Linked DNA regions of Homo sapiens: region 1 is linked to region 2. The links come from fine-mapping of genetic effects on gene expression. A gene starts in region 2. The other region holds a variant in brackets. All regions are shown on one strand. Distances are from middle to middle. Region 1 holds the start of LOC124903039 (a long non-coding RNA gene). Region 2 holds the start of VPS37B (VPS37B subunit of ESCRT-I).

Region 1 (2,907 bases), 31 kb before region 2:
TGTTCAGTCCCTGGGTGTGTGGCAGCCTCACAAGCACCCACTTTACCCAGGAGCACCATGCCAGAGGGAAGGCTGAGGTGGGGGAGCTCACCCTGTCCTACCCCCTGCCAAGATCACTGGCATTTATAGAGAAACAGGACAGGGTGGGTCAGGGGAGAGAAAAGGCCCCTTGGCTGGCTCCTGTATGGCCTCAGACAAGCCTTCCACCTGTGCTCACGTCTCCTGGAGGATGAAGTGGGGCCTCAGCTAAGGCTGCGTAGCCGGGGTGCTTGTGCCGGGTGGTTAGGGTGAAAGGGCCTTGCAAACTGACCACAAGGGCTAAGACAGACCCTGTGCCTGGCTCTTGTTTGTTTACAAGGCAAGATGGCTTCAGAAACACTAACGGAACTGATTCTCCACCAGATACAAATGAAAATCCACAGGCATTGACAACGCTTAACTGATCATTCTTGAGTCCTCAATGACCAAACTTTTTTTTGAGATGGAGTCTTGCTGTCACCTAGGTGGCAATACAGTGGCGTGCCTTGGCTCACTACAACCTCCTCCCGGGTTCAAGAAATTCTGCCTCAGCCTCCCGAGCAGCTGGGATTACAGGCATGCACCACCATGCCTGGCTAATTTTTGTATTTTTAGTAGAGATGGGGGCTTTGCCATGTTGGCCAGGCTGGTCTCGAACTCCTGATCTCAAGTGATCCGCCCCCCCCCCCCCCCCCCCCCCACCTCAGCCTCCCAAAGTGCTGGGATTCCAGGCCACTGTGCCTGGCCGAAACCTTTAATTGAACAGGCTGCCTCAAGTGTGGGGCTAGAAAGCAGGAGCTTGGGGTCTGGTCCTGCTCCCCCACCCTCTTGGACCTGTCACTGCCTCTCCCTGGTCCTCCTTGTGAATGGGACACACAGCAGGAGGAGAGGCTCCCACAAGGCAAGGTTCATGAGCCACAAGACTCTGTGAAGTCCAGCATCCTCACTGGAGTGGACAACAGATTTGGCTATAAGCTTCCTGGCAGCCACTGGGAAGAAAGAAACTATCACACACTTTTTCTTTAAGGCTAACTGGCTTCTCAGGAAATCCTTCCCTCTTCCTCACAGAAAAACCACAGAAATTTCTCCTGTACATTCTCATAGAACAATGATGTGCCAGGAATGGCAGCTATTACAGGAGACAGCAACAGGTGAGCTTGCTCTCATCTCAGTTCCTCAAGTCCCTTGCAGGGGCATTGTGACCCAGATACACAGCTTAGCTGGGGTGGTGAGGACGCAGGCACACGGCTCAGCCGGGGCGACGGGCATACCTAGCTGCAGGCGCACGGCTCAGCTGGGGCGGCGGACATACATAGCTGCAGGCGCACGGCTCAGCCGGGGCGGCGGGCACAGGGCAGTTCTGTAGCTCTGCAAGGAGGCAGGGTTTGCAGGGTCCCCTCCTCTCGGCCTAGAGAAGGAAACAGCACCCAC[T/C]GGGCTTTGAAATGGGCAGAGGCAACTGCCTTCTTGAAACACCTGCTGGCAAGTCCCCAAAGCAAAACATCAGAGCCACTGGTTTTCCCACTAAAAACCAACACAGAAAATCCTAACAAGTACCACCATTCACACAGCACACGGCGGCAACCTCACGGACAGAGAGCAGGCACAGTCTGAGCCCTGAGGTCACCCTCAGTCCCCTACTTGGACACAGTGGCTGTGATCCTGAAGACACCCTCTTAAGACACAGAACATGCCCTGTACGTGACTGCTGTTTATGAGACTGGTGACCAAGAGGGTAAGAGGCCCCACCTGTGCCAGGGGCCCTGGACAGGCAGAGATTTTGTCTTCAGCTTCAAAAACAGACGTCCCAGCCAGCTTCCCTGCTGGAACTTTGATCACTGATGTTTCAGAACCAGACATCATGAACATCCACATCCCCAAGTAAATAAGTGACAGGCCTGTTATTAATAATTCTCTATTTATTAAAAAGGGTCCTACAGCTTTACAGCCACAGCACCGGACACGGCCCTGGACAGCGACGGCGAGCCCGGCCAGGGGCCGCTTTGCAACTTCAATGCCAAGCTCACGTCTGGCTGCGACCGTGGCAGGCTGTGGCATCCCCGACAGCGGCCGGTGGCGGAGGTATGGGGGCGGGTGGCACCGCTCACTCGAGATTCACAGAACATGGCAAGCCCGCCTGACTGGCATGGCAGTGAATCGTCCTGTACAGCTTCATTTCCTTTAAGAAAACAGTTACAGTAGAGTTCAAGTCCGAGAGCAGGAATGTACGGTCACTGAGGACAAAAGGCAGTGGCCTGGCCCGTGGCCCAGACCCCGCTTCAGTTCTGCCTTCTGTCACCCTGGCGGCTAGGCACAGGTCGGGGCCCTGGATGCCCGACAAGTGACAGGGGAGGGGCGGGCCAGAAGGTCCACTGGTAAGCACCTCGGCCTTTTCCGTCAACAGGTGCCACTGCCCCCTGCTGGGCCCTGGGCCTTCAGCACACATGGCACGTGAAGATGAGGTCCCACAGGGGTGGGGGAAGAGCAGGTGCAGACGGTTGGAGTGCAGCCCCGTCCCTCAATCCCATGGGGCGGGCTTTCGCCAAACCCCTAACGTTGCCCACCCTGAGGCCCAGCCACCAGCCACCCAGGGGCAGAGGATATTGGCTAAGGGTAGCCTGGGTCAAGGCGGCCGGACGTCTTGACCACCTGTAACAGGGCAATGAACTTGGACAAGCCCTTCAGAGAAAGCAGAGCCGGGGCCTTGCCCAGCCCCTAGCAGGTGTGAGTCCCGGCACCTGGGGAAGCTAAGGCACAGCACGGACACCCGAGGGGGGGGCACCGTGCACTGCTTGCACAAAAGGAAATTGCATCCACTTCATCGGCATTTCGATCTGCTCAAGACAGTATCTGCATTTTTTATAAAATTTCCCTGAATGGTCTTGGGAGTGT
Region 2 (2,837 bases):
GATGAAGTCAGTTACCCGAGAGCAAACCACACCTCAAGGTGTGAAGGAAGATAACCAGAAACAGGAGCTGGCACATGCCTTCCAGGGGCTGGGCAAGGCTTGACTCTCAGAGGTGAGGGTTGGCAGCCAGCCCCAAACCCCCATTTTAACTTCTTCCTGAAACTGCTCCAGGAACCTTCCTTAGTCCCAGACACGTGGGACGCAGTGGTACAAAGCCAGCCACACTAAATTTCCCACCTTCCCTTCCTCGGTGGAGGGGGCAACCCTTACAGAAAAACGTATCCTGTCGCCACCCTTAGGCCCATCCACGAACTCCCGTAACTCTGCTGGGGCCACTTCAAAAGAAGTCAGACTCCAGGGGCATTATTGGGACCCCTTAGATACATGGAACCTTCAAACCTTACCCTGGCTATGGTATGACCATGGACTCCTGCCTCCAAACCCTGGGCTGGGGACCCTCGCCCAACCCTTAAAGAGCCTCAGAACCACCTCATAGACTCAGCTACAGACCCTCAGCCTCCCGAACCCATCTTGGAACCCTCAATCCTCTCCTAAGAGTCCTATTTGGATAGTCCACTCAGTCCCCCAAAACCTACTCTGATCCCCTATAGCTGCCTCAGTCCCCCTGGTTGTCCCCAACCTTTCCTCTCAAAGGAAACCCCCCAACCTCTACCAGATCTAGCTCTTGGTCCCCCTCAGTCACCCCTAATCCTCGCCTCCGACTCAGCCCTTATTACTCTCCCCGCTCCTCCGACCAAACCAATCTCAGATCCCCCCAGTTCCGTCCTCTTCCGCCTAGACCCAACGATAGCACTCTAATCCCCAAATTCCCATTCCAGGCTCCCTAATCTCCACTTCAGACCCAGCCTTAAGTCTTCAGACCCAGCCTTAAGTCCTCAGCCCCACAAAACCTTGTCTCAGGACCCCCAATCGGCTCCCCAAGCCCCGTCTCAGGACCCTTTTTCCCGCCTCCGCCCTAGTCTCGGTCCCCTCAGTGCCTCAAACCCCCTCTCAGGCCCCCTATTCCTGCCTAAGCACCAGTCGCGGTTCCCTGGCTCCCGCACCCCGCCCCAAGCGCCCCCATTTCTAGCCCAGTCCCCTCAACACGACCGGAGGCGCCGCGGTCGCCTCCGCCTCCGGCCACCGTTCGAGGAGCGAACCCCGCTCGAGGCCTCACAGCCGCCGCCTTAAGCCCAGCTCGGCTCACCTCCTCCATCTTCTGCACCATCTCCGTCAGCTGGCCCTCGTCCTCCAGCAGCTCGTTGAGCTGCACCAGCGACAGCCCGGCGAACCGGGCTTCGCTCCCGGCGCCCGCCATCCCCACGTCTCGGCCGTCGTCGCCACCGCCGCTGCGGCCACCAGGCTCCGCCGACCGGAAGCGCCGCCCTCAAGGGCCGCCCCCCGCGGGGGGGACACGTGACGCCAGCCCTGGGTCGTGACGTCATCACCGCGCGGGCGGGCGGACGTGACGTAAGTGTCGCGGCTCGCTTGGAGTGGAATGTGTCAGGGACAGTCGGGACTTCTAAAGGGAGGGGAAGGGCCCTATGATTGGGCTGTGACGCGTGAGCGCATTAATGACGTCACTGCGGCTCGGGAGAGCGCGCCATGAGGTCATAAGAGCCTTTTTCCTCCAGGAAGAGAGATACCGCGATCCAAGGAAAACAGGCAGTGGGAAGGAAGTTCCCGCAGCCTGTGAGCCCAGCCCGATGCACGGAACCCAAAAGACAGAGACTTCATGGGGAAACAACTTTAGGTGTCATTGGTTACTTGGAATTGTGGAGCTGCCACGTCATTCATTTAACAAATATGTTTTGAGACCTACTCTGTACTGGGCATTGAGTATACAGTTCTGAATAAAGCAAAACGGACCCCTGCTTACATGGAGCTAACAGAATGAAAGAGGACGCAAACAAAACAAGAAATAAGTAAAATAATTAGGCGATCACAAATAAGGGAATGGACACTGAAATAAGAAAATAAAAAGACCTTTAGGGTAGTAAGAGATGGCACTTTCGGAGAAGGTGGCGTCTAAGGAAATGTGAAGGATGAGAAGGGAGGAACCAGCCACCATTCCTGTAGGAAGCTCAAGGCAGCAAAACCAGCACGTGCAAAGGCCCTGGGACAGGACTAACTTGGTGCATTCAGGAATGGGAAGAAGGCCAGTAAGGCTGGAGCATTTTGAGCAAGGACCCATTGAGTGGCCCCTTTGCATCACCTCAGAGGAAGGTGCCCAGACATCCAGGTGGGCCAACCTGTGCTCTTTCAGAAACAACACGATTTAGGGTGCAGTCGCTCTCAGTCTCTCAGCTACCGGGAAGCCTCTTAAGATCCAGGAGCCTGGGAACTCATTATCCTACTTTGGAATCTGTCACAGTTCTAGTTAGAAGAAACCTAAGGCTGAGGTTAACCATGACAGCCCCCTAATTTTACACATAAGGGAACTGAAGCCCTGAGAAGGGGAAATTTTTTGGGCTTTTGCTTTGTTTCTGAAAATCAAGTAATTGGCAGGTCTCCTGGCTCCCAGTCTGGCGTCCACCACGCTGGCATCATAACACACTGACCTCGTCTCATAACTCAGCTCTGAACACAGTCGAGGCATTCAGCAAATGCTTATCGGCAGACTTAGGGGCTTTGTGTATAAAGCTGATTCTTCTGCAACTCCATGGGTAAAACATAAGGTCTGTGTTCTCCATCCATACGTTAGGCTGGGCTCTGCCAACCTCTTCTCTCCTTCCAGCCCGTTGTACTAAGGGCTCGTGTTTGCAGAAAAATGATGAAAGTTAGAGGAACTATTGCTTTTTTTATTTTTTGAGACAGAGTCTTGCTCTGTCGTCCAG

What was found. PIP is the estimated chance that this variant, and not a neighbour inherited with it, causes the effect.
Region 1: its variant is fine-mapped to the expression of VPS37B in whole blood (INTERVAL, PIP above 0.99).

Annotation. Positions count from the first base shown.
Region 1 is chr12:122,863,414-122,866,320 of GRCh38, forward strand. It overlaps VPS37B (VPS37B subunit of ESCRT-I), which reads right to left. Exons shown (of 4, transcript NM_024667.3): 4 at 1,917-2,907. LOC124903039 (a long non-coding RNA gene) reads left to right here and starts at 723. Exons shown (of 2, transcript XR_007063500.1): 1 at 723-1,169; 2 at 1,587-1,944. The variant T/C (reference allele first, on the strand shown) is at 1,450.
Region 2 is chr12:122,894,745-122,897,581 of GRCh38, forward strand. It overlaps VPS37B (VPS37B subunit of ESCRT-I), which reads right to left and starts at 1,380. Exons shown (of 4, transcript NM_024667.3): 1 at 1,208-1,380. The coding sequence starts at 1,318. RefSeq lists an enhancer at 1,044-1,193 and a silencer at 1,374-1,523.